4 linked regions of the Homo sapiens genome follow. The protein of the gene in region 3 interacts with the protein of the main gene of each other region in a pairwise test. Each region holds a gene or a part of one and is shown on either strand. Other genes may lie near its edges.

Region 1 (8,586 bases), on a different chromosome or scaffold from region 3:
CTTACTTTCTATAAAGTCCTTTTATTTCCCATACTTTAAAATATCATTTTCTTAAATATTCCTTCTACATACATTGAGTGCTATATCAGATAGTGTCATAAGTTTTCCTTCAATCATCAAATATGATTTAAGAAACTCATGAGAAGTAGAAAAGCCTATTATGTTTAATTATGTTTTTACCCATTTGATATTCTTCTTTTCCTTTTAAAATTCCAAGTTTTCTTTTATGAATACCTTTCTGCTTAGACAACTTCCTTTAGCCATTTTTCAAGGGTTGTGTATTTTTTTTTAGCAACAAATTCTTTGTTTTCCTTCATCTGAGAATGTCTTTATTTCACCCCATTCCTGAATAATTTTGCTACATGTGGAATGTGTGGTTGGCATGTTTTATTTCAGCACTTCCTTCTGGCCTTGTGGTTTCAGATAAGAAATCTGGCGTCATTTGATCTGGTTTTGCCCTGTAGTTAATGTGCCATTTGTCTGTTTTATTTTATGATTTTTTTTCAGAGATTTAATTATACTGTGTCTTGGTGTGGATTTATTTGGGCTTATACTATATGTGTTCACTTAGTTTCTTGAATCTGTAGGTGTATGTATTTCATTATTTCTTCGGAGCAAGACTTAGCCCTACTTCCCACCTCCTTATTCAGTCCTTTTTCCTGCTGAGTGTGTGTAGAGGTTCAGTTACCGCTGACACCAGGAGTCAAGGATGGTGGAGAACTGACTAGCTCTGAATCTCACTGCTTTATTCAGACTCATTGATACTAAATGTGAATGGAAGCTCAGCTTGTCACTGAGCCTTACTGAAATTGGCGAAGAGGAGGGGTGTGAAGCATAGTGGTGATGAGCCACTTCTCAAACCTTCTCCTTGCTGACCAGATGTGAGTGGAGGCTGAGTTTACTACTGGACCACACTGACACTACCCCTGCAAGGAGTATAACACCTACTTCTGCCATGGAGAGAATGGAAGACCAGCTCCCTACTTGGCCACACACTGAAACAGTCTGTGGTAGAGTGAGGTAGGGTAGTTTTTCTGTTGATGTTTAGCTGCAGTAGGATGGGTATTGCCAAAAAAAAAAAAATGCTTTTCTGCAATTAGGCCTCTGTTTTCCAGATCCTTTGCCTATGGACAACAGGCTATTGTTGGAGCTTTTATTATCTTTGCCTATTCATGGTTCTGGGTTAGAGCCTCCTGCAACTTTCTGGCCAATATATAAGGGACACAATAAAGACACCCAGGGAACTCACTACCCCGAATTTCCTCAAATTCTGTGGTCCTTTGTTCATCCAGCTTACTTTCAACTTTCAGAGACTTCTTAAAGTTGTGCTATGTCCAGAATTTTTTCAGTTTGAAGAGGGAGGACCTTGAAAGAATGGGTTTACTCTGTCTTGGCCAGAACTGGAAATCTCTTTTCTTCTATCTCCATGATTTAGACATTTATAATATCCACCCTCCACCACTACAAACAGAAGAGCACTGCATTATGACTTGGGGACAGTGTTAAGTTTCTAAGGGGTTTCCACTCTACTATCTGTGGTACCTCATCCCCCAGAGCATAGAAATCCCTCTCCTTTTGTAAGCCTTGGGTAATGGATATTATCGTGTTTCATGAAAAATAAGAGGAATATATAGCACATTTCTTTACTTTCCTAAGTCGAATGGCATTTGAGTTCAAGCTACACACACTTGGCTGGTAGAAAGGCCAATATCAGTAAAATTTCAAAAGTTCCTTCCTTTTTCTATGGGATCCTATTAGACTTGTGATGCTTACTTGGTCCCAGGAAAAATAAGTTGATTGTGGTCCTTAGTTCTTCTTGTTTGTTATGGATACCCTTACTGTTCATCTGCTGCAAGATGACATCAAGATGACCTACACTGGTCCTTCCTGCTCCTGTGGAGCAGTTCTTTTCAGCAGGACTTGACACTAATCACAAAATGAATCTCCAAACCCCTGACAGCTGGCTTAGTGTTTTTACTCCTAGTACCCAACTTCAACAGATGTTCCATAGTCATATCCCATCATCTGTGCTGCAAGGAAGTGAGGCGTATCAATCACTAGCAGAGTCTTTTACTCAATCCCTGGAATTTCTCCAGTCTCTGGGAAGTGAATAAGAACATGGAATATGGAATCAAGCTACTTGGGATGACTTAATAATTCATTTACTTTGGACAAAATCATAACCTCTCCAAGCCTCAATGTCCTCATATGGGGCTAATAATATTAGTGGTTACCACTATTATAAGGTTGGATTAAATGAGACAATATTTGTTCTTGTGTTACCAGTAGAGGGTCTTGACTGCAACTTGCCCAGGCTCTTGGCATTCTGAACAAATAATTGGACAAAACACATAGCAAAGCAAGGAAAGAATGAAGCAATGAAAGAACGAAAGCAGGGATTTATTGAAGATGAAAGTACATTCTACAGTGTGGGAGCGGGCCCCAGCAGCGACTCAAGGGCCCCGGATACAGAATCTCCTCGTGTCCAAATATGCTCTGGAGGTTTCCCAATGGCTACTTGGCACTCACCTCATGTAAATGAAGGGATGACCCACAATCAGTCTGATTAGTTGCAGAAAGTAACCAATCAGAGGCTGAAGTGAAGTTACATCGATACACTCCTATGCAAACATCTGACTGGTTGCAAAAAGCAACCAATCAGAGGTACTTTTAATTTCCCATCTGAGGACGCAGAAAAAGTGGGGGTATGTAAAGGGAGTAGCCTCTGGTCCTTTTGTTATTTAGGCGTGGAAAGTTAGGGTTTCTTTTCAGTTTAATTCCAGGAAGTCAGCGTGAAAGGGCCTTAGGTTCCCTGCCTCCAGACCCTATTCTCCTGCCTCACTTGCAGCAATGCCTGTTAATATAACAATATAGTAAAGGTGTAAGGCAATAGTAAAGAATAGTTAAGTTCTACATGCATAATAGGTACAATTTTCCTCCCTGGGCCACTCTTTGCTCTGACATCTACATCATCATAATCTTTTTAATTCCCAATTCTTGCACAATATTCACCTGGATAAGGCCCATTTTCAGGGTAACCCTGAAGTACATGAAGATATTTATCTCCTCCTACCTGCAACACATCCTGTTCCCACCTGAGTGAGAGGAGTGTAGACCAGTGTTTCTCAAATAATTGTCCACTGATCATTTGCATCAAATCTTTAGGGATAGAATCAAAGGATATGCACATCTATTAAGCTGCTCCTGAGATGTTAATGTACACTAAAATTCACGAAACAATCCTTTGCACTATCTGTGCCTTTTCACATATGGTTGCCTCTTTCTAAAATGTCCATTCATCCCATTTGTGTCCACGTGTGGAAACAAAATGCAGCTTCCTCTATGTACCTGTCCCTGATTTCATGTTCACTATTACCACCAGCAGATGCAGCCTTTCTATTGCTATAGGATGAATGATATGGGGAGGAATCAAAAGTGAGGTGCAAGGGAGTGTTGGGGTACACTGGAAGGCAGCTGCTGGATTGGAGTGGTGAGAAGGACCTATGGCTTTTACTTGGAATTTGTGCACTTGAGGCGAAGTTGCAAAAAGGGATGGGGGAAGGGGACAGAAAACCAGAAAAATAAAGAGGGGGTTGGGGAGAAGCAGCAACAAAATAACTCTTATGGTTTTCCCTGATCAGGAAGTAAATTAATCACCGCAGGTGTCAGCACCCCACACCCTCAGGCCGGCCTGCCCACTCGCCTGCTCTTCCCACTGCCTCAGCCCCTCCCGCTTGGCTTTCCTCGTGGATCTGTCCACACACTGACTTTGTTCTCACTGCCCTCTCTCCCCAATGTATCACTGTGTAACTGAAATCACTGGGTAACTGAGTATGCCCCGTTTGCGCCTGCCACCTGACTGGCTGCTCTGAAGCAGCAGAACTGGATAAGAACTTTATGAACTCTGAGAAGTTATTCATGCACAGAACCTCTAAACTTGCATCATTGTATCCACGTTGTTGCCTTCTTCTGGAACGTTATGTTCTCTGCACGTGAAAATCCTCTGCCTCTAGACCCTGTCCCAAGGTCCCAGGGACTCTGCTTGGGCGCCTCTGGGACTGACAACAGGGATATTAACTTTGCTTCTCAGGAGTGGGGAAGAGGTCCCCCTCTCAGGATCCTTCCACTCCCTCTCCTTAGGGCTCTGAGGCTCAAAGGAAGCAAACACCTCCAAAAAGCCCCTCAGGATTCCTCCCCCATTAGTACAGCCTACCATTTTCTCAAGGCTGCACCAAACCAAGTGTTCGCTGATATCACCATGGGCCAAATGTGGGTCCCAGGGATTTGCATTTGGATTGTACTCCTCAAGGGACTGTGGCAGTAGCTCAGAGACCTCAATTTGAGGAGGGAAAAAATATTTGTTTGAAACTGTTTAAGACATCAACTGAGGGGCTGAAACTTGAGGGGTTGCAGGTCTGACATATGGGTAAAGGTCTCCCTGCGCTGCCGAATCCCCCATCCCTTGCCAAGTTTAATGTCTAATCTTAGCGAAGGGTGTCCCAGGATTACACCAAGTGCACACTGGTTTCTCCAGACAGATCGTGGCCTGGGCTCCTTCTAGCCCCGTGCTTGACTATATCGTAGGTTTCAGATTTTATTGAAGTAGGGATTTTAAGAAGGGTAGTTAGCTGTTGTCCTGAGGGTAGCGAAATGCCGCGTGTCTGATACTTGGGATCCTGGCTTGCGGGCCCTCCTAGACTCTGCCCTTGCAGCTCCGCTACCCCCTCCCCTCCCTGTCCCTCCCAGCCTTCACCCCGCCCGGCCTCAGCTACTCCTCAGGCACCCCACGCGCTCACAACCGCCTGCCCGACCGCCTGCTCCTCCCACTGCCTCCGCCCCTCCCACTCGGCCCCCCGCGTCGATCTCGCCGCACGCTGACTTTGCTCTCACTGCCCGGCCAGACGCACTTCCCGCCTTCGCCTAGGTCTGCACCGCCACCGCCGCCCTCTCCCGCGCGTCCCTCACCCGGTCCGCCACTGCCGCGCCTCAGAATCCGAAGGCTCGGTTCCAGCGCAGCCATCCACGCCGCCGCCACGACCGACTCCGGAGCCACGCGCTGCAACCGCCACCAACGCCTTGCCGCCGCCGCTCGCCCGCCGCCCACCATGGCCCAGCAGCAAACAGGTAGCAGGAAACGGAAAGCGCCCGCGGTCGAGGCGGACGCCGAGAGCTCGCCGTCGCAGGGCTTGGCGGCAGCGGACGGTGAGGGGCCGCTGCTACTCAAGAGGCAGAGGCGGCCGGCGACGTATCGCTCGATGGCGCACTATCTGAAGGTTCGGGAGGTAGGCGGGTGGGGCCCCGCCAGGCTCCAGGGCTTCGATGGCGAGCTGCGGGGCTACGCGGTACAGAGGCTGCCCGAGCTGCTGACGGAGCGCCAACTGGAGCTGGGCACGGTCAACAAGGTGTTCGCGTCACAGTGGCTGAACTCCAGGCAGGTGGTGTGCGGCACCAAGTGTAACACGCTTTTCGTGGTGGACGTGGAGTCAGGCCACATCGCGCGCATTCCCCTCTTGCGGGACAGTGAGGCCAGGCTGGCCCAGGACCAACAGGGCTGCGGCATCCATGCCATCGAGCTGAATCCCTCCAAGACGCTTCTGGCCACCGGCGGCGAAAACCCCAACAGCCTGGCCATCTACCAGCTGCCCTCCCTGGATCCCCTGTGCCTGGGCGACCGCCATGGCCACAAGGACTGGATCTTCGCCGTCGCCTGGCTGAGTGACACCGTAGCCGTGAGCGGCTCCCGCGACGGCACTGTGGCGCTGTGGCGGATGGACCCGGACAAGTTCGATGACACTGTTGCCTGGCATAGCGAGGTGGGTCTCCCCGTATATGCCCACATCCGTCCGAGGGATGTGGAGGCCATCCCCAGGGCCATCATCAACCCCAGTAACCGCAAGGTGCGGGCCCTGGCCTGCGGCGGCAAGAACCAGGAACTGGGAGCGGTGTCCTTGGACGGCTACTTCCACCTGTGGAAAGCCGGGAGCGCACTATCCAGGCTGCTGTCCATCAGGCTGCCCTACTTCCGGGATAATGTGTGCCTGACCTACTGTGATGATATGTCTGTGTACGCCGTGGGCTCCCATTCCCACGTCTCTTTCCTGGATCTGCGCCAGGACCAGCAGAACATCCGGCCCCTGTGTTCTCGAGAGGGTGGCACAGGCGTGCGGTCGCTGAGCTTCTACCGCCACATCATCACTGTGGGCACCGGTCAGGGCTCCCTGCTCTTCTATGACGTCCGGGCCCAGAAATTCCTGGAGGAAAGAGCCTCCGCCACCCTGGAGTCCTCTTCGGGACCTGCAAGGAGGAAGCTCAGGCTTGCCTGTGGCAGAGGCTGGCTCAACCACAATGATTTCTGGGTGAATTACTTTGGTGGCATGGAAGTGTTTCCCAATGCGCTCTACACCCACTGCTACAACTGGCCTGAGATGAAGCTCTTTGTGGCTGGGGGGCCTCTCCCTGCAGGCCTCCATGGGAACTATGCAGGCCTCTGGAGCTAAGGATGACCGCCTTGTACTCCAGGTACACAGATTTACCTTTCAGTTCCGCCCGACTGCCCTTCATGCTGCATTTTTTTGCTTTTAACTCTGTGCGTCTTTTGTTTTCCAGGTGGAACCAGCCCAGCTTAATTTGTACTCCTCCAAGCAGAGAGAGTGAGTGGTCCTTTGGTCAATGAAAACTTGGCTTTAAGACTTTTTGACTCCTTTCCAACACCATCTTTTGGAATTTTCATACAAAGAAATTTGGTTAATCGTTAATCTTTAGTTGCATTCTCTCTTTGAGTGATTCATACATTCTGTTTCTTTAAGAAGATGCAGTCATGGTCTTTCAGTTATGTATATTTGTTTTCCTTGTTTTTCCTCGTTACCAATATTACAACAGCATTGTTTTCAGTTATTTTTCATTGCAGATACGAAGAGAAAATTTTCTAGTAAGCAAGGTGTTCCTACATCTTTTCTGGAGAGCTTACCATAGTTTTATAGCATTGTTCAATTGGAAAAGTACATTCCAAGTTCTAGATTACCTACGTTTGGAAACACTTAATTTACAAATTGTGATCTTAGTGTATATAGTTTTTACGTTGTTGGTGCTAAAGTGCTTTTTTGAAGTTTATTCTCTTTCAAAATAAGTTATCATAGAATCTTGTGCTTGTATCAAACTCCTAATTGGTCGGAACACTTTAGGAGTGCAGGGGTTCTGCTTCATTGCATTTTCAGAATTAACCTGAAAGTTGAAACAACCATTTTTTTTTATTTCAAAACTTATTTAAGTTGTTATCACCTGTCCTTAAATAGATAAAAGAATGTGTATTTTTTCACTTGTTGCCTTAGTACTATCAAGACTTGTGAATATATTTGAATGTATGTTGTTTGAAAAACTTGCACAGGGCATTGGAGCCATCATGAAAAGCAGGAAATGTAAACGTGGAATGTATGGCAGGCTGGGCAGAATGTATACTGATCCAGGGTATAGACTAGATATTTTTGCTGTTGCTGTTTTTATTATAAAATGTTATATTTGAGGATATTTAACATTTTCCAATTCTGCTTAAGAGGTAATTCACAATAAAAAAAACAAAGACCAAAAATAGCACATTCTGAAAAAAAGATTCTTAATAAGATTTTATTTTGTGAAGTTCAAAGATTCTTTCCTAAAGTATAACGTGTTGTTAAAAAGTAGTGGTGTTATAACTCTCAATGTAATAGTATGCAATATCAAGAACACAGGAAGTTCGTTTCAAGATAGGTGAGATTTAAAATAAATAGGATGAGGTTGAAGAAAAGTATATTGGAGCGCAGATAAATATAAATTGTGGACTGCTATGAAAACAGGTTGTACTTCTCCATATGTGAGACTACTGGAAGTGAGAAGCAATATTTGTCATTTCTAAAACTGGCCAGGCTGTGCTGACCCAGGATTAGTAATTTGTTATGTCTGTTTTCCCTTAGATGTTTGGGCACTCAGATGCTATCTTGGTGCACACACACAACATTGCTGTTCAGTCACAAATCCGAACAACTTAATATAATAAATTGTACTAAAAGTCATTTAAGAAATACCAAAAAGTAAGCTTTTGTTTCTAACCATTGTTATAAAGGCTAATATAATTGTTGTTATATAGCAGTAAGATATATTTGTGTGCATGCGTCTCCAAGTCAGTTGTAAATGTCTTGAGAACAGAGAATACAATTGTCATCTTTATATTGCCTCATTTCTCCACTAATACTTAGCAAATAAAAGGCAATAAGTAAATATGTACTGGTTGAATGCCTCTGGAGACCTAGAGTTTAAAGTTTTAAGTCAATAAATAAATAAATATTTACTCTTAAATAATATAGAATCCTGTTGTGTTTTCCCCCCTTTTTTGGTAAACTTTGCCCTGATTTATTTCCAGGTCAGGCTATTGTGCTTATCCATTCATAAACTTACCCATATGTGATACTAGCAGAGGAAAGAACATGTATAAATCTTAGTTGACACTGGAAATTAATCTTTTCACCTGCAACCATTTAGGTTTGAAGATTTATTTAAAATATTTTTGTTTTTTTTTCAGAAATTAGTTTTGGAATATCCTTTGTAGTTTGTCTT
Region 2 (6,473 bases), about 130 Mb from region 3:
AGCCTCTCCCAAATAGAGGCCCTACCTGGGCTCAGGCTTAGGGGGAACCCTACAAGTTCCCCAGTCTCAGCCACCTTTACTGGAGGGGCCTCCAGTCCAGATTCACCCAGCCTGTTCTCTAGCTGCTCCCTTGGAAGAGACGGGGTAGACAGAGCTGGGAACAAGTACCCCTGAGCACCAGAGTCTGAGTCTAGGCCCAGAGCTATTTGGATTCCAGGTAGAAAACATAAAAATATTTACTCCTTAACAAGAGCCCTAGACCTGCTAAGGCAACGTGCAGGTCACACATGTAGACAGCAGCTCTTAATATACAGCTGGTCAGGCTGCGGCTGGGGTTGGGAGAAGGAGGGGCAGTCCCCCAGCCATAGCCCAGGCTTCAAACCCCGCCCCCGCAAATGCTCCCTTCCACAGTACAAGCCAGACTCCAACTGGGGGAGGCAGCTGCAACCCCCACTGCTACGGAAGGTCCTTCTTTCCCCAGAGGAAGCATGGCACTAAGGTTCAGTGTAGACCGTCTTTATTGGCAGGTGTTAAGAGTGCAAAATATCAACAAACCCAGGGGAATACGCAAGGGGGTGGGAGTATGGCTCCCCTACCCCATGTGAGAGCCCTGTAACCAAGCCAGTGGGGTGGGAACGTTGACTTGACTGTGGCAAATTCAGGCTCAGCACCTTCCAAAGAACAAGCTCCCAGGCAGGAGGGCTCCTTGCAACACAAGGGGGAAAGGAGTGGCACCCTGGAAGGGGCCTGGGCTGCGACCCACCCTGGGCTGCTTGGCTCCTGTATACTGCCCACCTCAACCCCTCAAGAGGAAGGCTTCACAGCTGGGGGTATGTAGTTCAGAGAACCGGGCTAAACCCAGCCCTCCCCAAACCCAGGTATCTGCCTCGGGCCTCAGTTTCCCTCCTCCCAGTGATTACCCAAGTTGGCCCATCAGGCCCTGTAGTGGCCCAGCCTGATCCAAAGTGACAAGTCCCTGTAACATACCATGTATCAGTCAGTGTGTGGGCTGCAGGCCCTCCAAAGCTGCTGGGATCACCACAGGCTGGCCTTAGTCAAAAAGACCCTCTTAGACCATGGGAATCAATCCAAGGTGCTGGGCATTAAGGCTACCACCCCAAACTTGCTTTGTCTCCTGAAGGAAATTGACTTCCAAGACAAATGGCGCCTGCACCCCACCGGCATGCTGGTCCAAAAGTGTGATGCAATAACCAAAGGGTCCTCCTGCTGAGAGCCCCAGGCTGGCATTAAGCCCACAGGGGCCTCGTGCTCGGGAAAGTCTGGTCTGTTCAATCAAAGGCCCAACCCTGCAGTGCTGGGCCTCCTGGCACATTCTGCGCCTCTGGTCATGTCCTCCACACACTCTTGGAGGCCCCACCCCACCCCGTGAGGCCCAGTCCCTTCCCTTCTGGCCAGGGTCTGAGTCAGTTACAAGGCAGCCAGGTGGGATAGGCGTGAGCCAGGAGAGGTTGCACGGGGGTCACGTAGTAATTGACAGTGGCTGGCACAACCCCGTCAGTGCCTGGAGGGCGCCAGGCCAGGGCGGCAGTGGCAGCTGGGCCCTGCTCAGCCAGTGCCTGCAGCGCCAGTGCGGCAATGAGGTCCAGCGTCTGGCGGCGCTCGTGGTTCATGAGGCACACGGTGCTCTCGTTGACCACCCGGTGCAGTGTCACCAGGCAGGCGTAACGGCGGGCTGCATCTGCCCCACCGAAGTGGGCCTCCAGGTAGCGCTCTAGGGTGCGCCGCTGCTCCACCAGGTCTGGAAAGTCGATGAAGAAGCGGGAGCACATGTAGCGCTGCAGGGCGCGCACATCGGTGCTGGGCCGGGGCCGGAAGCCCCGCACCAGGAGGTGGCAGTACTTGAGGAGGCCACCACCTCGGATCTCCTCGGGACTGCGCGTGGCGATGACACGGTGCCGCAGGTGCTCCAGGGCCTCGGTGAAGTCCCCGTACAGGCTTTCGCCTGTGACCGTTGGGTGGAAGGCCTCAGACATGGGAGTGGACGAGCACTGGCCAAAGAGCAACAGGGAGTCCAGGATGATCTGGAAGGAGTCTATGCTGAATTCAAACTGGCGTCTCACCGAGTCCACAAACTTGAGCTCCACGTTCTTGCCGCTCTTGTTGGACAGTGAGATGAGGCTCCAGCGGTCCGAGTCTGTGCACACTTTCACCAGCTTCTGCACGTATGCCTCCTTGAGTGTCAGTGGCGTGATCTTGGCCCGGCTCACACCGGCCGGCAGGAAGTCTAGTAGGCAGGCCAGCACCACTGCCTTGGTCAGCTGGAAGGATGCCTCACTGCGCAGGTCCACCCGGAACACCAGGTCCAGATCCTTGTAGCCCAGGCCACTCTCAGGGTGCAGCACGTGGCTGGCAGCTGAACCATGCAGCCGCACACTGTGCACATGTAGTCCCTGCTCCTCCAGGGTGCTGCGGACCACCTGCAGGGGAGAGCAGGAAGGAGAGGTGTCAGGAGCGGGCCTCAGGGGTCCACCAAGGACTTCCGTTTACTTATCACGGTAACTTCAACCACTATTGGCCCCTAACCAGCTGTTATGCCTTTGGAAAATCATTTAACTTTTTTTTTTATTGGGTGGGGGTGGGGGGGTTGGGGGGGAGTCATTTAACTCTTTAAACCTAATCTGAGAATGGCCCATCTGGAGGAATGACTCAGGAAGAATAGCAATGATAATAGCACACATCTGCATAGAATTTACTAAACAGCAGGTCACTTAATCCTCACAATAACCCTGTGAGGTGGATACTATTATTCACACTTTACAGATGCAAAAATGGAAGTACAGAGGGGCCAAGTAACTAGCTCAAAGGCAAACAGCTGGTGAATGCAGAGCTGGGAATAAAACTCCGAGTCCAAGTCTTTTTTTTTTTTTTTGAGATGGAGTCTCACTTTGCCACTCAGGTTGGAGTGCAGTGGCGTGATCTCGACTCACTGCAACCTCCGTCCCCCGAGTTCAAGTGATTCTCCTGCCTCAGCCTCCCGAGTAGTTGGGATTACAGGGGCCTGCCACTGTGCCCGGCTAATTTTTGTATTTTTAGTAGAGACAGGGTTTCACCATCTTGGCCAGGCTGGTCTTTAACTCCTGACCTCGTGATCCACACACCTCCCAAAGTGCTGGGATTATAGGCGTGAGCCACCGCGCTCGGTGGTTTAAGTCTTAACCGTGCTATTCTACCTCTCAAACTGCTAGTAAAACAGTTCTGTATCAGGCACTGTGCTAACTGCTCAAACGTGTTGGGAATATGGTTAGCAGTTCACATTCATGACCACATTAACCCTCCCCATAATCCTACATTTGAGTATTATTTTGACTGATAGATGGAGGACCTCAGGTGCAGAGAGGTAAAGTCAAGGTCACAGAGCGGTCAGGCTGAGACCAGAACCCAGGTTAGTTGGGATTCTCAAGTTCACCTATGTCCTTTTGACTACAATGCACTCATCCTAACTCATCCTTACAAGGACCCAGTGAGGCAAAAATTATATACTTTTTTTGCTCTCGGATGAGGAAACTGAGGCTTACAGTGGTGAAACAGCTAAGGCTCAGTGAAAACTCTCAGCCTTCAGACAGTCCCCAGGCCTGATGGCACAGGACAGATAAACCTATAAGTGGTCCCTCCGCTGAGGTACCAGGTAGGGAGAAGAGTGAAGCTGGGGGTTGGGGACATTCAGTTTTCTCAGTAACCCAAAGTTGTCCTGAAAGTGACCAGGCAGCATTCCTGTCCTGAGTGATTCTGCAACCCTGCCTTGCTGCCAAGTCAGCACCCAGCTCCAGACCAGGCTGTTCTCCTTGCCTCCCAGGGAATTACTACAAAGAATGCACCTAAGTGCTGAGAAGGCAAGCTGTGGTGGGGCAATCAGAGGCGGGCGGCGCCCTCCAGGAAGACTTCCGGGAGGAGCAACTTTACCAGGGGAAGATATTGTCATGGCAATGGGAGGGTAAGCAACTGGCCACAAGGAACACGGAGAATGGGGCGTAAGCAGCTGGCCATCAGGAACACAGAGGGTGGCAGAAGGAGGCTAGGCATCTAATGAGTGCCGAGCACTGGACCTTGTTGCCAGAATCTATGGGGACAGGTGTCTTTTTTTTTTTGAGTCTGAGTCTGTCATCCAGGCTGGAGTGCAGTGGTGCAGTCTCAGCTCACTGCAACCTCCGCCTCCCAGGTTCAAGTGATTCTTCTGCCTCAGCCTCCCGAATAGTTGGGATTACAGGCGCCCATCACCACACTCAGCTAATTTTTGTATTTTTAGTAGAGAGAGGGTTTCACCATGTTGGCCAAGCTGGTCTTGAACTCCTGACCTCAGGTGATCCACCTGCCGCAGCTTCCCGAAGTACTGGGATTACAGGCATGAGGTACTATGCCAGGCCAAGTCTTTTTTTTTTTAATATGGAATTTTTTTCTGCCTTTCCAAACCCTTCTCTACCTTCCTTTCCTCCATCCTTCTTTTTTTTTTTTTTTTTTTTTTTTTTTTTTTGAGAGAGTCCTGATTTTGTAGCTGAGGGTGGAATGCAGTGAATGCAGTGGCACGATCTCAGCTCACTGCAACCTCAGCCTCCCAAGTAGGTGGGACTACAGGTGCGTGCGTGCCACCACACCCAGCAATTTTTTATTGTTTACAGTGATGGAATCCTGCCAGATTGCCCAGGCTGGTCTCGAACTCCCGGACTCAAGCTATTCCCCTGCCTCAGCCTCCCAAAGTGCTGGGATTACAGGCGTGAGACACTGTGCCTGGCCCAGGACAGGTCTCCTGGGAAACTGAAGCTCACAGGAGTGATGTCACTTGCACAAGATCACGTGGAGATGCCTTCAAACCCAGGGATGGCCAACAGCAAAGCCTATCCTGTTTCTACCACATTACAGTCCCAGGGTTCAGAAGGAGCAGACTAGTGTTCTAATCCACCTTCCCTTTCTAAATTTCAAAGCAAAGGCAACCCTCAAGCTACTGAAGCCCAGAGCCAGAATAGTTGGGGAACAGGAAGGTGAGGGTTGGGAGATGCCTTGGCCAGACAAGGCCAGTTGCTGCAGTCCAGCCTGTGGGACTTCTAACCCACACCCTGTCAGCTGGCAGCTGTGCCTGCATGGGCCAAAGACCTTGGTCCAAGGACCCTACCAAACCTGCAGAGAAGACCAGCCCCTTCCTCAGATCCCATTAGGGCTGACTGAGCCTTACTCAGTGCCAGCTCCTGCTCCCAGGCTGGTGCCCACCCCAGGGCTTGGCATCTGGCCTAGTGAGTAGGTAGCAGTACTCTTGTTAAATCCCCTGCGTCAGGGCCATGGGGCCAGCTGTGTCAGCCAGCCAGTCGCTGTTGTCTCCTTCCCAGGTGTGACTACAGCCAGTTTGGCAGACGGTCACCAGATACCACCACACCCAAGTACTGCAGGGCAGCTTGGTGCCTCCTGAATCAGACTTTCCAGCCATGGAGGGGGCAGTGGCTGCACCCTCCTTTCTCCCATGCCAAGGCCCTCCCCACAACCACTCTGCTCCAGGCTGCTGCTGAGACCTGCAGGGAGACTGACAGACGCCGTCAGCCAGCAGGCTTACAAAACTCACATGCTCTGCCGCCTGATGCAGGCCCTCTGGCTGCAGCTGGAGAAATCAGATTGTCTAGTTCAATCCTCTGGGCCCAGAGAAGGCAAAGGACTTGTCCAAGGTTACACAACCAATAAAAGGCCTCCCTGCCTGTAGCTCTGGGAAGGCTCCTTACAGTAGGGTGAGTCCCTTTAGTACAGGTACAAGCAAGAACAGAATCTCTAGCCACTCAGATTGCCACTACAGGCAAAGCCTTGCAGGGGGGTAGAGGGAGAAAGGTTCCAATTTTTGAGCCATAGGACAACTCAGCAGCAGTGAAAAGCCCCAAGGCAACAACCGACACCACCCTCCCCCTCTCCCCGCCCCCATCCCTGCACACATCCCAACAGCTTTAGAAGCTGCCAGCTGTGGATTTCTTCCAAGAAACTTTCTTCGCTGTGGAGGCAGCTGTACAGACCAGGTGAAGGCACCTGTCCCCTTTGGAGTCTGGAACCAGAGAGGGTGTTGGAGAGCAGCAGCCTAATCTATCCATCCCAGTTGAACAGATGGGGACACTGAGCCCAGCAAAGAGAATTGACAACAAACAGTCCAGGGCCTGAATCCAGAAGTCCAACTTCCCAGCCCAGCTCTGAAGTCTCTGCTGCCCTTCCTCACCATCGCCGACAGCTCCCTGTTCTGTGCTATCTCTGACCCAGGTCTAGAAGGACATGGCACCACCATTGCATTGTAAAGTTAGCTTCTATTGACCTGGAGTCTCCCCCATCTGGCTAGGAGCACCTGAAGGGATGGAGGCTGAGTCCTAGTCACATCTGTGCCCTTGGTTTCCTAAACAGGGCTTGGCACAGAGCAGACACCAAGAGGCAATCTGAGCCATACTGACAGGGCAAGGACTTCTCCTCCTTCCAGGGTATCCCTTGTTCTTGCAGAG
Region 3 (7,902 bases):
TGTCGGGCGAGGGGCTCGGTGAGCGTCTCCCCGTAGGGGCTGAGCGGGTGCGCGGTGTAGTGCAGCAGCAGGTCCTGCAGCCGCGCGTGGGCGCTGTCCTCGCCCAGCACCACGTGGCGCCCGTCCCTGAGCTGGGCCAGCAGGAAGTGGCGGCAGCAAGTCCGGCTCCTGGAGGGCGCCGTTAGGGATCAGACTATCTCCCGCTCCTCGGCCAGGGTCACCAGCGAGAGGCGTGATCCCCACCTTCAGCAGCCCGGGGAATGAGCTAAGAGCCCGGCTCCTCACGGGATCAGACCCAAGCCCCGCCCCTCCCGAGCCCCGCCTTGTGTCGCCCGGCGCGGGGCCTCGCCCCTCACCTGTAAGTCAGCACGAAGGTCACCGCGCTCTCGCTGAACCGCACCAAGTAGCACCCCTGAGGCTTGGGCTCCAGCAGCCTCTCTGCCTCCCTGTGGGTGACGGAGAGAGGGGGCCGAACCCTGCTCTGACACTTCCAGCCTCGCCTCTGTCTCCCCGGCTCTCACGAGGAACCCCTACCCCCAAGCAAGCATGCTGGAGCGGCTAGAGAAAGGCTAGGGCGGAGATGGGGAGAGAGAGCACGTGGGCGCTGCTCTCCCGCTGCAGGGATTAGGCGTGGACAGGGGCCAGGGGTCCCATTCAGGAGACCCCCGCATCCTCCCCTGGCCTCATCCTGAAAGGGCAGCCTGCAGGGGCTGCTACTGCAGCTACAGGGATGGGAAAGTAGTTGGACTTCCAGATTTCAGAAGTCAAAGCTGAACTGAGGAGGTGAACAAAGAGTTAGGGAGAAATGAGGCTGAGAAATGGAGGAGGGAGATTCTGCAAGGGTGGAAGAAGAGAGGGCTGGGAGATAAAGATGGAGTAAGCCTGGAGGGAGAGAGAGGTGGAAAATACCAGCATTCGAGGCCTTAGGGACAGGAGGATAATGGGGCCTAGAGAGGGGAAGCTGAGGTACACAGAGGGCTGGACTGGAGCCTCTCCAATGATCTCCCCTGGAGAGATGCCTCAGTGAAAGGCTAGGAAAACTCTGGGAGTGGGAGCCTGGAGTGGGCGCCTCCATCTACTCCAGACTGGTAGAAGTGGGAGCCTTCATCTATTCCTGGCAGGTGGCAGGACCCAGACCCAGGACTTGCCCTGCCCCTGTCTGGGCCAATTTCCTCCTCCATGACTCACCTCCGGGTGATGAAGCCATGGAACCAGGCAGGGGCTGCCCCGTGCTGCAGGAGCCAGTGGGCCTGGGTCTTCTGGAACCAAGCCCGGGTCTCGGCCTGCAGGAACAGGCTTCCTTCTCCAGGCACCTCCTCTGCCCTCTCAGCATTCCCTGTGTTGGAGGCAGCCTCCGGGGCCTGGGGAGATGCCTGGATCAGGGAAGAGTTCAAGGAGGGGGAAGCAGCATGATGAGTGGGCCTTCTCCTGACTTTGATCCACCTGCCACCTTCTTTTCCTCATACCCAGCCTCTCCTGTCTATTTTAGGGTACAATTGCCCAGAAAGTCCTTCCTAAAGTCTAACTTAAATCCCTTCTTCAGCTCCAGCTGTTCTGGCTTCCAGAGACTCTCCTTCCTTTGCCCTCTGGGTCCTGAGGGCTTTTAATCCAGCAGCAGTGAGCTGTCACACTGTGCTCTAGGAGGGGCGGGAAAGGCAGCACAGCCTTCCAGATGGACAGAGTCATTCCCTGGCCTGGAGGATGAAGAAACATGATGCAGGAAGTCACCCTAGAGGCCAGAATGAGGGAGGGCTTACTTCATAATATGAGGGACTGACCTAGTTCGCAGGGAAAATTATTGACTGGGCAGGAGAGAAGGACTGAGACGGGAATGTGGAATGCACTGGGCAAATGGTCACTGACACAGAGTGCAGATGCCTGCTTCTGGGACTCAATGCACTGCACCCTGGTCATCTGCGGACTCAGCCTGAGCTTCCAGAGGGCCTAGGAGCAGTAAGGGAGTGAGTGGGCAACTCGGCGCATGAAGGAGGTACTCCTCATTTTCGTTCTCTCTCTCTGTGCCCCAGCCCGTTGGCAGACCCGGATCATTCCTGCCTTCTCTTGGAGTGGCCTTTGTCCATCTGCAAGTCCTTCCCCATGGGAGGGTGGGAGAGATGAGGGAGCTGCACCACGCTGCCGCCCCAGGTTTCCACTCACCGCAGTGTAGCCCAGGTTCTGGCAGCTCCTGCGGGTCATGTCTGTGATCTGGAAGGTGCTGAAGGTTGGGATGGGGGCTTCGTGACTCCCTGTGAGCACAAAGAGGGCTGCCGGGGTTTCTCAGAGAGGAACTATGTCTGTCTCTGCCTCCCACCCCTCCTCCCAGGCTCAGGGGATCTGGAGGGCTGGGACAGTCTTAACGACAGGAAAAACGCAGAAGGGCAGCAGGGGAGTTTCTCAGGCATGAGGTTAAGTAGCCAAGGCGGCATGGGGGGCTAATGCTGCCAGAGGAGGTTGTGAGGGACACCAGGTGCCTAGAAGGAGAGGCTGGGAGTCAGGCTGGCCTTCGGATGGTCAGGGAGGCAGATCACTTCAGGGCAGGCCCTTCTTCTGGTCCAGGATCTTCTGCCTCCTTCTCCCTTCATCCTCCTGCTCCCTCCTCTCTCCTCTCTGAGAAGCCCTCAACAAACCCTGTCACCTTTATCCTCAGGGATGAGTGGGCATGGAGCCCCAGGCAGGGTTGTGGTCACCCTGCCAATCAGCTTTGCCAGCTCTGGCTTAGGGTGGGGCCCCTCATCCCTGAAGTGGGAGCTCAAGCCCAGGAGGGAGGGCAGGGGGATGGGGGTCTTTGTGCCCCCTCCCACCCATATCCTTCAACTTCACACTTACCTTGGGGACATATCTGGGCCAGGGGGAACTCCATGAGGGCAGCCTCACAAGGGATCCCAGAGCAGGGTGTGTGTATGTGTTCCGGAAAGGTGTGCACACTCAGCAACTCATCATCTCTCCTCTCACCCTGGCCCCGGGGGCAGGAAATGTCGCCTTACCCACAGCCTTAGTTCTGGCGAGGACTCACGTCATGGAAAGCCTTAAGACGATTGTCCCACCCCCGGAAGCCACGCAGCTGTAGATAGCGGTGGTATAGCGGTGGGGGGTATCTGTGTCACTCTGTGTTTAGGTGTTAGGAAGCCCTTACTGCTGCCTGACCTTCATCCCTCCAGATTCTTTCTCTGCCCCCTCACCCCAAACTAGAACTTCCCTTTCTCTCTCTCTCTCTCTCTCTCTCTCTCATCTCTCTTGGCTTCTATTTCTTTCTCTCTGGAAAATCTCCCACTCTGCCTCTTGGCCTGTTCTGAGCAGTGGGAATGGGGATGTCAACCTCAAGGATAAGCCACACAAGGTGCTTATGGATCATGCTTTGAGGAGACATGAGGAAGGGAGGGGGCAGGGCTGCAACAGGAAGGATGTGGGTCAGACTTCTGGAAGGACTTTTTGAGGACATGTGAAATCTATGAGTCTGGGCATGGTGGCTCATGCTTGTAATCCCAGTACTTTGGGAGGCTCAGGCGAGAGAATCGCTTGAGCCCAGGAGTTCATGATCAGCCCTGGGTAACATAGTGAGAGCCCATCACTATTTTTAAAATAATAATAATAATAGTAATAATAATAAAGAAATCTATAAGACAAGGGGTTAGAGAGGAGGGGGCCTGGCTTCCATCATTCAGCAGATAATGGAGCTGAGTTAGGGCAAAACCAGGCAATATTGGAGGAAGGAAAGAGAATTCCTCCAGCTAAGCAGGTCATCATTAGTATCAACACTATCAGCAGTTGTCATTAATAACATCAGTGTTGACATCTTTTTTTTTTTTTTTTTTGAGACAGAGTCTAGCTCTGTCACCCAGGCTGGACTGCAGTGGCACAATCTCAGCTCACTGCAACTTCCGCCTCCCAGGTTCAAGGGATTCTTGTGCCTCAGCCTCCCGAGTAGCTGGGATTACAGGCTTGTACCACCATGCCTGGCTAATTTTTGTATTTTTAGTAGAGACAGGGTTTCACCGTGTTGGCCAGGCTGGTCTTGAACTCCTGGCGTCAAGTGATCCACCCACCTCGGCCTCCCAAAGTGTTGGGATTACAGGCGTGAGCCACTGCACTGGCCAGTGTTAATGTCTTAAACTTTCAATGTGCTTAGACTTCCCACCATACCAAAGGACCAATCCCATTTCTCTCTGAATTTATCTTCACAAACTAAGAAGGGGACAGGAACATTATCCCCATTTACCAGAAGCTCAGAGGAGTGCCTTGGCCAGGGTCTTTCAGTGTCTGAGAAGTTGGTGTGAGTGCTGGGACTAGAAGGTAGACTTCCTTTCACTAATTTCACTGTGATTTAGGCCAAAGGTTCATGACTATGTGCTATGCACTGTTCTTGGTACTGAGAACCCAGAGAGGAAAAAAAAAACTTTGTTTCAAGATGTCAGATGGGGGAGATGGACTTGCCAAGACTTACTGTTTTTTAAAAAATTGTGTACTGTTTTTTTGCTTTTAAAAACATGCTCTAAATTTTTAATAATTTTTGGGGTACGGTTGGGTTTTGGCTACATGGATAAGTTACCTAGTGGTGATTTCTGAGATTTTAATGCACCTGGCACCCAAGCAGTGTACACTGTCCCCAATATGTAACCTTTTATTCCTCACCCAACCTTCCCCCCAAGTCCCCAAATTCCCTTATATCACTCTCATGCCTTTGTGTCCTCATAGCTTAGCTCCCACTAATAAGTGAGAACATACGATATTTGATTTTCCATTCCTGAGTTACTCCACTTAGAATAATGGCCTCCAGCTCCAACCAAGATACTGCAAAAGACATTATTTCGTTCTTTTTTTGGCTGAGTAGTATTCCATGATGCAGATATACCACATTTTCTTTATCCACTCATTGGTTGATGGGCACTTAGGTTGGTTTCATATCTTTGCAATTGCAAACTGTGCTGCTATAAACATGCGTGTGCATGTGTCTTTTTAATAGAATGACTTCTTTTCCTTTGAATAGACACCCAGTAGTGGGATTGCTGGAAATAATGGTATTTCTACTTTTGTTTTTTTAAGGAATCTCCATACTGTTTTTCATAGTGGTTTTACTAATTTACATTCCCACTAGCAATGTAAAACTGTTCCCTTTTCACCACATCCATGCCAACATCTATTTGTGTGTCTGTGTGTGTGTGTGTGTCCGTGTTTGAGATGAAGTCTCACTCTGTCACCCAGGCTGGAGTGCAATGGCGCTATCTCGGCTCACTGCAACCTCTGCCTCCCAGGTTCAAGTGATTCTCCTGCCTCAACCTCCCTTGTAGCTGGGACTACAGGTGAGCACCAACCATGCCTGGCTAATTTTTGTATTTTTAGTAGAAAATAATGGGGTTTCACCATGTTGGCCAGGCTGGTCTCGAACTCCTGACCTCAGGTGATCCCCCTGCCTCAGGCTCCCAAAGTGCTGGGATCACAGGCATAAGCCACCGCACCTCACCACATCTATTGTTTTTTGACTTTTTAATTATGGCCATTCTTGCAGAAATAAGGTGGTATCTCATTGTGATTTTAATTTGCATTTCCCTGATGATTGTGGTGTTGAGCATTTTTTCATATGTTTGTTGGCTGTTTGTATACTTTCTTTTGAGAAATGTCTATTCATGTCCTTTGCTCACTTTTTGATGGGATTATTATTTTTTTATTTTTATTTTTATTTTTATTATTTTTTTAGATGGAGTTTCGCTCTTGTTGCCCATGCTGGAGTGCAATGGCATAATCTCGGCTCACTGCACCTCCGCCTCTCAGGTTCAACAGATTCTCCTGCCTCAGCTTCCTGAGTAGCTGGGATTACAGGCATGCGCCACCATGCCTGGCTAATTTTGTATTTTTAGTAGAGATGGGGTTTCTCCATGTTGGTCAGGCTGGTCTGGAACTCCTGACCTCAGGTGATCCACCCGCTTTGACCTCCCAAATTGCTGGGATTACAGGCATGAGCCATCATGCCTGGCCTATTTGTTTTTTTCTTCCTGATTTGTTTGAGTTCCTTGAGATTCTGGGCACTGGGTGTTGTTGGATGCACAGCTTGAGAATGTTTTCTCCCACTCTGTGGATTGTCTGTTTACTCTGCTGATTACTTTTTTTTGCTATGCAGAAGCTTTTTAGTTTAATTAGTTCCCCATCTATTTATTTTTGTTCTTGTTGCATTTGCTTTTGGGGTCTTAGTCATGAATTCTTTGCCTAAGCCAATGTCCAGAAGAGTTTTTTGGATGTTATCTTCTAGAATTTTTATGGTTTCAGCCCTGAGATTTAAGTCTTTAATACATCTTGAGTTGATTTTTGTATAAGGAGAGAGATGGGGAACCAGTTTCATTCTTCTACATGTGGCTTGCCAGTTTACTCAGCACCATTTATTGAATAGGGTGTCCTTCCCCAATCTATTTATTTGTTTATTTTTTGAAACAGGGTCTCACTCTGTCACCAAGGCTGTAATGCAGTGGCACGATCTCGGCTCACTGCAGCCTCAACCTCCCGGGCTCAAGTGATCTTCTCACCTTAGTCTCCCAAGTAGTTGGGACTACAGGCATGCGCCACCACACATGGCTAATTTTTGTACTTTTTGTAGAGATGGGGTTTTGCCATGTTGCCCAGGCTGGTCTCGAACTCCTGGGCTCAAGCCATCTGCCTGCCTTGGCCTCCCAAAGTGCTGAGATTACAGGCGTGAGCCACCACATCCAGCCCCCCCAATGTATGTTTTTGTATGCTTTGTCAAAGATCAATTGGCTGTATGTATTTGGCTTTATTTCTGGGTTCTCTATTCTGTTCCATTGGTCTACATGCCTATTTTTATACCAGTACCATGCAGTTTTGATAACTATAGCCTTGTAGTTTAATTCGAAGTTGGATAATGTGATGCCTCCAGATTTGTTCTTTTTGCATAGTATTGCTTTGGCTATATGGGCTCTTTTTTGGTTCCATGTGAATTTTAGGATTGTTTTTTATAGTTCTGTGAAGAATGATGAAGGTATTTTGTTGGAAATTGCATTGAATCTGTAGATTGCTTTGGGCAGTATGGTCATTTTCACAATATTGATTCTTACCATCCATGAGGATGGACTGTGTTTCCATTTGTTTGTGTCATCTCTGATTTCTTTCAGCAGTGTTTTCTTTGTAGAGTTCCTTATAGAGTTTTCTTTGTAGAGTTCCTTGTAGTTTTCCTGGTAGAGATCTTTAACCTTCTTGGTTAAATATATTCCTAAGTTTTTTGTTTGTTTGTTTGTTTGTTTTTGCAGCTGTTGTAAAAGGGATTGAGTTATTGATTTGATTCTTAGGTTGGTCGTTGTTGGTGTACAGCAGCATTACTGACTTGTGTACACGGATTTTGTATCCTAAGACTTTACTGAATGTATCAGATCTAGGATCTTTATGGTTGAGTCTTTAGGGTTTTCTAGGTGTACCAGCATATTATTGGCAAACAGCAATAGTTTGACATCCAGTTTGATTTCCAATTTGGATGCCCTTTATTTCTTTCCCTTGTCTGATTGCTTTGGCAGCATTTTCCTAACAGATACTTACTAAAGCTTGTAGTGAGTTAGTGGTGTAGGCTGGTGCTACGGGAACCCCCCTCAGAGGCCCCCTAATTTAGCCTGTGTGTGTGTGTGTGTGTGTGTGTGTGTGTGTGTGTGTGTATGTGTAGGGGGTTGAGATGTCAGAAGACATGAGATTAAGCTGAGTTGTAGAGGATGAGTAGGATTGAAGAAGGTGGGGAAAGGTGTTTCTAGAAGAGGGACCAAGCTCAGAGTGGTGAGGAAAGGAGAAGTGCAGCAAAAAACAGACGCAAACAATGTTACTGCATTGGCTACTTCAAAATGAGCTGCAAAGTGCAGTGGCCAGTTGCTTGGTAAGCATTTCACTTGGCAAGGAGGACTTTCTTCAGACAGGGTG
Region 4 (7,871 bases), on a different chromosome or scaffold from region 3:
CTAATATCAGTTTATATTTTGTGTTTTTGTAAACTGATCTTCAAAGTTCTGATTCTCAAGTCCTTCTCTGTCATTTTTGTGACCTGCTCTAAAGCTTTTTTTCTCCCTTTTTATATTGTTATGCCTTAGTTGTAATGTTTTAGCTAAAATGGAAAGGAATGTTCCAGATATGAGGCATATTTTTAATTTACTTGGTAGTATTATGTCTATGTTTATACTCTCTATTTTACATACTAATTTGAAATAGTAATTATGTGGTTTTAAAAACTTAATTTTCATATGCAATTTTAGCCTTTTCCCATTCCAGGTTTTAGCAGAGCTATTAATAGAAGCAGAGCTTGCTACTTTGAATTACATTTATAATTAATTGTTTTGTTTTTGGAAATAATAAAATGACACAAACAGAGACAAGAACAAAAATGAATTTATATAACCTACAAATAGATTTTTTATTATATACTATATATGTTTCATTTTGTCTCTTAGATAAATATCTGATATTTCTGGCAATTTAATGGCATTAGTAAGTAACGTATGGGTAGTTTTAATCTTTTTCTATGCATTCTGCTTGAACTTGTTCCAGCATTTTAATCATCCATGTAGAATGTATTCTTTTAATTATGTTTCTTATTATATGTAAAATCTTCTCTAAATAATATTAAATAAAGTATTTCCATTCATGTTCAATGATCTAATTTCCCTTTATAACTTTTATTTTTAAGTTAGGCAGAAGCATAAATTAAAAAAAACAACCTCAAGGAGCAGATATTCTTAATTCACAGCTTCACGTTATACATAAAATTATGTTTATAAAACAGAATTTTAAGGTTTATTGCATTTATAATATCATAACTTGTTATGCTGAAGCTTAAATTATGCTAAAGCTGTAGTTGTCTCCATTGGGAATGCATATTTGGTGGAAATTATGTGTAAATTTAATAAACCTTTAATATATCTGTATAGGCCATTAAAAATGTTTCATTAAAAAATCATTTAGTTTGTTTTTTTTCAGTCATTCAACACATAATGAGCACCTACTAGGTTCTAAGTACAGTACCTGCTAGGTACTGAGTATACAGTTGTGGATTAAAACCATTGCTCTTGTGAACTTTACCTGACCAGTGATTGAAAGACTTAAACAGCATCTGAGTCATATGGTTCAGAATAGGTAAAACGGAAGTTTTTCCTATCAGATAAAAGCATCTGAAATAAGAAAGTTAGGATAACCTCCAGTAGTTGAGCATATCCCAAAGCCATATACAATCTTTATGTTTTATTTTTTGGGCAAATGCAGAAATCAGTACCTCCCATAGATGGCCTTTCACTGTCCTTTTATAAGTTATGGGCCTTCATGGTTTTAAGATCAGTCCAGGAGAGCAGAAGCCTGAGGTCTAGGGCTAAGGTATGGGGATAACAAGACTGAGAATGCATTAAATGGCTCTGTACACCATTTGAAAACCTTAGGGTTGTGGGAAAGATTGGTGTCTGTTTGACAACATGAAAACTGGCTTTTCTTTTTATTTTCTTCATTGGCCTTCTATAATATTTGTAATTTCCTGCTCCTTTAAAGCACAATTTTAAAGTTAAGGATGGGGGAGATCTGTGAGTATGTATTATTGAAATCCCAATCTTAGTCACTTTAATGTATTTCAAGTGTTTAAGATTTTTTTTTATTTTGTAACTTTATAGTTTTAAAGCTTTATCATTTAATGTACATTAAATTAAAATTATGCTATAAATATACACTTTTTCTTCATTTGATTTACATATTATAATGCTTTTTTGTGTGCTATAGTGCAAACTTGGATGAGGAGGCACAGGCTGGTACCAGTTCACTACAGGTAATGTTGGATCACCATCCTGTTGCTATTACAGTGGAGGTGAAGCAAGAAGAAGACATTAAACCACCTCCTCCACTGGTTTTAAATTCTCAACAGAGTGATACTTTAGAGCAAAGAGAAGAACATGAATTAGTACATGTTATGGAAAGATCCTTGTCGCCTTCACTTTCCTCTGTTGATATGAGAATGACATCGTCTCCATCTTCTATTCCAAGGAGAGATGATTTTTTTCGGCATGAGAGTGGTGAACACTTTAGGTCACTATTAGGGTATGATCCTCAGATCCTGCAAATGTTGAAAGAGGAGCATCAGATAATTTTAGAAAATCAAAAAAATTTTGGATTGTATGTTCAGGAGAAGAGGGATGGATTGAAAAGAAGGCAGCAGCTAGAGGAAGAGCTACTAAGAGCAAAAATTGAAGTGGAGAAGCTGAAAGCAATTCGCTTACGGCATGATCTACCTGAATATAACAGTCTCTAAGTTTTTTTTTCAATCTTGCAATTTGATAATTTTGATTTTGGCCAAATTACTTTAATTTGGGAATATCCTGAAACAGAATACACGTTCTTGAAAAATGTTGTTAATCTCTATTATGGAAAAACTTTTTAGATATAATTTTCTAATTATTTTCTTTTGAGATATTAAAATTTACTGGTTGGTTGGCATGGTTATAGTTTTTATTGTCTTCTTTTTTTTTTCCCTAAGTTTAATTGTTGACCTTACAAAAGATATTTTATTCTGATCACTAAGATATACACAAATGCATATACAAACACATATTCTTTCAAAGTTCTGAGTCTTCAACATTTTTAGTTAGAACTTTGAAAGCTATAATTAGAGATTTTTAAGTCAGTCTAATTTAGGAGCTATACTAACCTAATACCAAGAAGCTTGTCTGTATGACATTGGTTTTTATGCTTTTATCTTTTGAAGGAGTAAATCCTAGGATTTTAGAGATGGAAGATATTTGGAGAACACTTTTTTTCCATCTCTGCAGTTTAGGGGTAATGAAACAGGTCCAGGGAGAACTCAATGACTTACTTAGGGTAACAAAGCTATTTATGGCAGAGCAGAGACCAGCACTTAGTTTTTCTTTGTGTAATTTCCATCCCGCTATTCGATAGAAGTAAATATCCACTAAAACATTCTCTAGATTTAAATATTAGAAGCATTTCTTTCATTAAAATTGCCTTTAAAGATTGTTAGGTTGTGAAATCAGGATAATTACATCAATTACCCCCATTCTCTCTCTATTTTTGTTCCAGCAAAATAGATAAGGTATTCCATTGAAGCTATTATATATTTTGGCTGTGTGATTTAAAGACATGTCTTAATTCATTTTGAATGTCCTGTTCTGGAAAAAATTTCTTTCACAGTAAAAATCAGAATGAACAAAATTAAAATTTTATGTATTTTATAAGTATTGTTATTTTAGTATTCATGGAAATAAAACCTCAATTCTTAAAGCATACATATTAAATTTATATTAAATCTCTAATATGTATGTTACTTAAGAATTTCTATTTTTGCTGGGGTTTTGTTGAGAAGGGATTTTTAAGCCAAGTTGTAGAATGGGGTGGGTGTAATTTCAGCAGTGAAGGGGACCATGGGTGTTTGAAGTCAAGAGTGAGACGCTGGAAAAAAGACAAAAGAATGGGAAAAAGTGGATTGAGTATATAAGCACAAATGCAGTGCTAAGCCATTGATTTTAAGTGAATGTAGAGAGAGTCAATTTGGGCTGTAGTATCCTGGACTAGGAAGGACATCTCCCTGGACTAGGTAGGGTAGCTGCTGTTTAGCTCCAGCAGAATTTTCACATGCGGGGATAAACCAGAAATCTGCATTTTTTAATGAGGAATCTTCCAATTTTAAAATGTTTGCAAATAACACAAAATGCTTTTAAAACATTATACAGACAACATGTGAGTGGGCCTCACTGAGCCATTGGGCTTCCACTTTGTGGCCTTTGGAGTAGACCAATGGTTTTCCAAGTATGGGTCCTGACCAGCAGCATCAGCATCACTTGAGAACTTGTTAGAAATGTAAATCCATTTCCAAGTGAATTAGAAACCCTGGGGGTGTCAGCAATCTCTTTTAATAAACCCTTTAGCGATTCTGATGCATGCTAAAGTTTGAGAACCAGTGAAACAGAGTATTTTGGAACCTCGCTTGGTGCCTAAATCATACTAGTCTCAAAATTTTTGTCGAAGAGTAGTTGAAAGTGAACTGAGGGATATAAATTTGGATGATGGTTGATACCAGATTATGAATTACATTAAATACTTTTTTTTTTTTTTTTTGAGATGGAGTCTTGCTTTGTCACCTAGGTTGGAGTGCAGTGGTGCGATGTTGGCTCACTGCAATCTCCGTTTCCTGGGTTCAAGCGATTCTCCTGCTTCAGCTTCCCAAGTAGCTGGGACTACAGGCGCACCACCATGCCTGGCTAATTTTTTGTGTTTTTAGTAGAGACGGGGTTTCACTGTGTTAGCCAGGATGGTCTTGATCTCCTGACCTCGTGATCTGCCCGCCTCGGCCTCCCAAAGTGCTGGGATTACAGGCTTGAGCCACCGTGCCCAGCCTAAATACTATTTTTAATGAGTCAGACTTAACGTACAATGAGAAGCCATTGAATGCTTTGAATTAGAGGGCTAATTTGATTATAGTTGTGATTTAGGAGGAGTGGCATTTAGGGACAGGCATTGTATTGGAAGAACTTAAATCAGAAATTTAAGTTATGGCTATAGAAATAGAAAAAAATGAACTCAAGGTACTATTTTAGCATGTTGACTACTTAATTTCATTGGTTGGATTAAAAAGAGGGTGTTTTATAGCTGGTAGAGTTAACTTCTTTAATTATAAAGATGTCCTGAATATATAACTTGATATATCCTTTTGACAATGTTACCTTTTCTCTTTAATCTGTGCTATGACTTTTCTTTGAGTCTAATGAATCTTGTAATTCTTAATTTGAGGTAATGTTTCCCAGTATAATTCTAGTAAACACATCTTGGCAGTAGTAAGCTTTATTTTTTGAAATTATTGAAAGCACATATATGAGATGTAATTCACTTTACAGTTTCAGCATGCTACTAAGAATTGATAATGAATGTTCAATTTAAATGTTGGCTTTTACAGCAAATCAGAGTTTTCCCAAGTGTGTTCTGTGGAACATTAATTCTGTGAGATGTTTCTAGAAAAGAGATCTGTGTTAAAAAAAAGTGCAGTATACATCTTTTTTATTTTTGGTGGTTAGGTTCTAAAATAATTGTGGAAGGTAAAAATTATGTATATACAAAATAGCCCTTGAAAATTCCTTTGCTGCCCATAAAATAGCATAAACATAGTCTGCTACAATCATATTTTTCTGCAGCATTGTTTAAGATTGCTTTTTCTTTAGTGTGTTAGGTGACACAATTCATTAGCATTTAGGGGCTGTATACAATAAGAAACCTATTTTTACATATTTTTAAACACCAGAATCACACTCTTTGAGTTTACTGCAGCAACTTTTCCAAGTCAATCTTGTTTTTCTCCAAGTCAGTCTTGTTTACTTTTAATTTGCAAAAGTTTAAATGCATATAATTCTCCTCATTGTCTACCTCCCCTTGTATAACCATGATTAACATAGTATAGTTTATGAGAATTCCTGTATAAAGAAAATTATTTATTTGACCATAGAATCCTTTTCCGAGGCTGTTTATTATCTTACAGAGTATCTTAGGGTAATTTGGAACCAAACCTTTTTTTTTCTTCTTTTTTGTATTGAGACTTTTTTGAGTTAGGGGACTACTTACCAACTAACATTAGCAGTTTTTGTTGAGGACAAGTTTCATTAAGGGGAATATATAGGGGAAAGTTTGCTAGTACAATGGAATGTACACTTGGCTTTCTATCTGCAGGTTTCACATCTGCAGATTGAACTACTGTGGATTGAAAATATTCAGGCAGAAAAATAAATAACAGTACAACAATAAAAAGTAATACGAAATTTAAAAAGACGGTATAACTGAGGTAGGAGTTGGGCTAATCCCCAGTTTTGGGGCTCACTTGTCCTGTATCCTAACAACTATTTACATAGTATTTACATTATATTAGCCATTGTAAGTAATCTAGAGATGATTTAAAGTATATGGAAGGATGTGTGTAAATTGTATGTGAATACAAACATTTTATATAAGGGACTTGAGTATCTGTGGATCTTGATGGGGTAGGGGGTGTCCTGAAACCAATCCCCCTTGGATACTGAGGGATGACTATACACTTAAGCCACCAGACATCTTGCATATCATAGACAATTGTTTGGGGTCCATGAGCTTTAATTACAAAATGTAATGCTGGGAGAACATAGAGAAGAGTGATTTTGTTTTTTAAATGTAGACTTGATTCTGTAGAAATATACTACATTTGATAAATATACTAAGTATATAGATTATTTCATCCAATATATTAGTAATTTAGATAGTGGATAGCCACTTTCCTATCTTTCTCTTATCCATATGAATGTAATGGATATGTTGTTACAACTTATGATTTTCTAAACTAGCTGTGATTTATAATGACATCCTGAGAAAAGTCAGTGAAACTCATTTCTAACGAATACCAGATTTCTTAAAATAGTCAAGTATTTTTCTTTTGTGTATGATGAGATATTAACTTGGTGTTATTTCATTTTTTTTTTTAAGGAGTCATTCTACCCTGTTCTATCTTTACTTATGTGAAAATGTTTAAACTATGAGTTTTTTTCATGTGCCTTCTTTTGGAGTAATGTCAACTTTTAAATACACATGTTTAAATAACTTAGAGTGTAATAAATTGTGTTTAATATATACTGTAGATAATGATGGTTAAATGCTTTGTTAACACATGTTCTTTTAAATACAAGATACTACTTTGTACTGATTTGTGTACTTTTTTTGTGTGCCGTTAAGACAAATAATTCAGTACTGTAGAGGTAAAATTTTTTGATGAGGTATAATTGAAATACATTTATTTAGATGATTATGTTATAATAGATGGCCAATGTACCATATCTAAATATCACATTTCATTTCTTTTTTCAAATGTTAAGAGCCACAGCTTCTCAAAATCAAATATTTGATGGTGAATTTGATTGTAAACACTTAAAAGTAATTAGATGAAATATGGTTGCATACTTAAACAAGAGTAAGTTCTTAGAATATGCAATCTAATTAAACATTAACAGTCAAGCAAAATCTTTGTATACGATTTTGAGAAATTGTTCAATATATTTTTATAAATCTTTTATATTGATTAAAGCTAGTAGTTATAATTTGAACATATTATTTATTTTTAGTTTCCAATTGCTTTGTAATAGTGGAAAGCAAAATAAATGAGTAAATAAAAATAAAAATAAAAATATCGCTCATATCAGTCCTGACAACTTAAACTAAAAGGATATATCATTATAATTCCACTTTGCTAGCAGGTCTTTTTTGTTTTAAAATTTATGTGTGAATTCACCTCTGTTACAAAGTTTTTTTTCCCCTAACATTAAGAAACCTTTCAAACATACAGAAAAAGTGAAAAGATAGTTATAGTAAGTATCCATATATCTACCACATAGATTCTGCAATTAATGTTTTGCTATACTTGGCTTCATCACCTATTTATCCATCAATTCTTTTTTTTAAAGGAAAAATGTTACTTCGAAACAAGTTGTAGAGTTAGAATAATTTACCCTTAAGTACTTCAGCATGAGTATTACTAGAGTTCACTATTTATTTGTGCATGTGTGTTTTTTAGGTAAGATTTGCATACAGTGAAATGCACAAATTTAAAATATACCATTTGGTGAGTTTTGATCTACAACTGTGTAGCTCAAACCTCTGTCAAGAATTAGAACAATATCACCTCAGAAAGTCCTCTCTTGCCTGCTTCTAATCAGTCTTCTTGCACGTCAGGCAACCATTGTCCTAATTTAAAAAAAATTATAGATAAGTTTTGCCTATTCTAGAACTTCATGTAATTGGAATCATACAATATGCATACTTTGTTTCTGTTTTTTTCACC

What was found.
Region 1: the proteins of SH2D2A (region 3) and DCAF12L1 interact in binary tests that used the Homo sapiens proteins (3 or more experiments, as listed by UniProt).
Region 2: the proteins of SH2D2A (region 3) and TENT5B interact in binary tests that used the Homo sapiens proteins (3 or more experiments, as listed by UniProt).
Region 4: the proteins of SH2D2A (region 3) and FSBP interact in binary tests that used the Homo sapiens proteins (3 or more experiments, as listed by UniProt).

The regions. Positions count from the first base shown.
Region 1 is NC_000023.11:126,549,128-126,557,713, reverse strand, and holds DCAF12L1 (DDB1- and CUL4-associated factor 12-like protein 1), read left to right. Parts: upstream 1-4,899; 5' UTR 4,900-5,105; coding exon 5,106-6,497; 3' UTR 6,498-6,519; intron 6,520-6,606; 3' UTR 6,607-8,331; downstream 8,332-8,586.
Region 2 is NC_000001.11:27,004,520-27,010,992, forward strand, and holds the end of TENT5B (terminal nucleotidyltransferase 5B), read right to left. Parts: intron 2,439-6,473; coding exon 1,425-2,438; 3' UTR 501-1,424; downstream 1-500. UniProt on the Homo sapiens protein: Catalyzes the transfer of one adenosine molecule from an ATP to an mRNA poly(A) tail bearing a 3'-OH terminal group in an ATP hydrolysis-dependent manner.
Region 3 is NC_000001.11:156,813,849-156,821,750, forward strand, and holds the start of SH2D2A (SH2 domain-containing protein 2A), read right to left. Parts: upstream 3,001-7,902; 5' UTR 2,861-3,000; coding exon 2,827-2,860; intron 2,610-2,826; exon of another isoform or gene 2,265-2,609; coding exon of another isoform or gene 2,247-2,264; coding exon 2,158-2,246; intron 1,991-2,157; coding exon of another isoform or gene 1,982-1,990; exon of another isoform or gene 1,902-1,981; intron 1,374-1,901; coding exon 1,189-1,373; intron 477-1,188; coding exon of another isoform or gene 447-476; coding exon 357-446; intron 169-356; coding exon 1-168. UniProt on the Homo sapiens protein: Could be a T-cell-specific adapter protein involved in the control of T-cell activation. May play a role in the CD4-p56-LCK-dependent signal transduction pathway. Could also play an important role in normal and pathological angiogenesis.
Region 4 is NC_000008.11:94,426,581-94,434,451, reverse strand, and holds the end of FSBP (fibrinogen silencer-binding protein), read left to right. Parts: intron 1-1,795; coding exon 1,796-2,321; 3' UTR 2,322-6,736; downstream 6,737-7,871. UniProt on the Homo sapiens protein: Transcriptional repressor that down-regulates the expression of the fibrinogen gamma chain. Represses transcription of GSK3B gene promoter via its interaction with APBA1.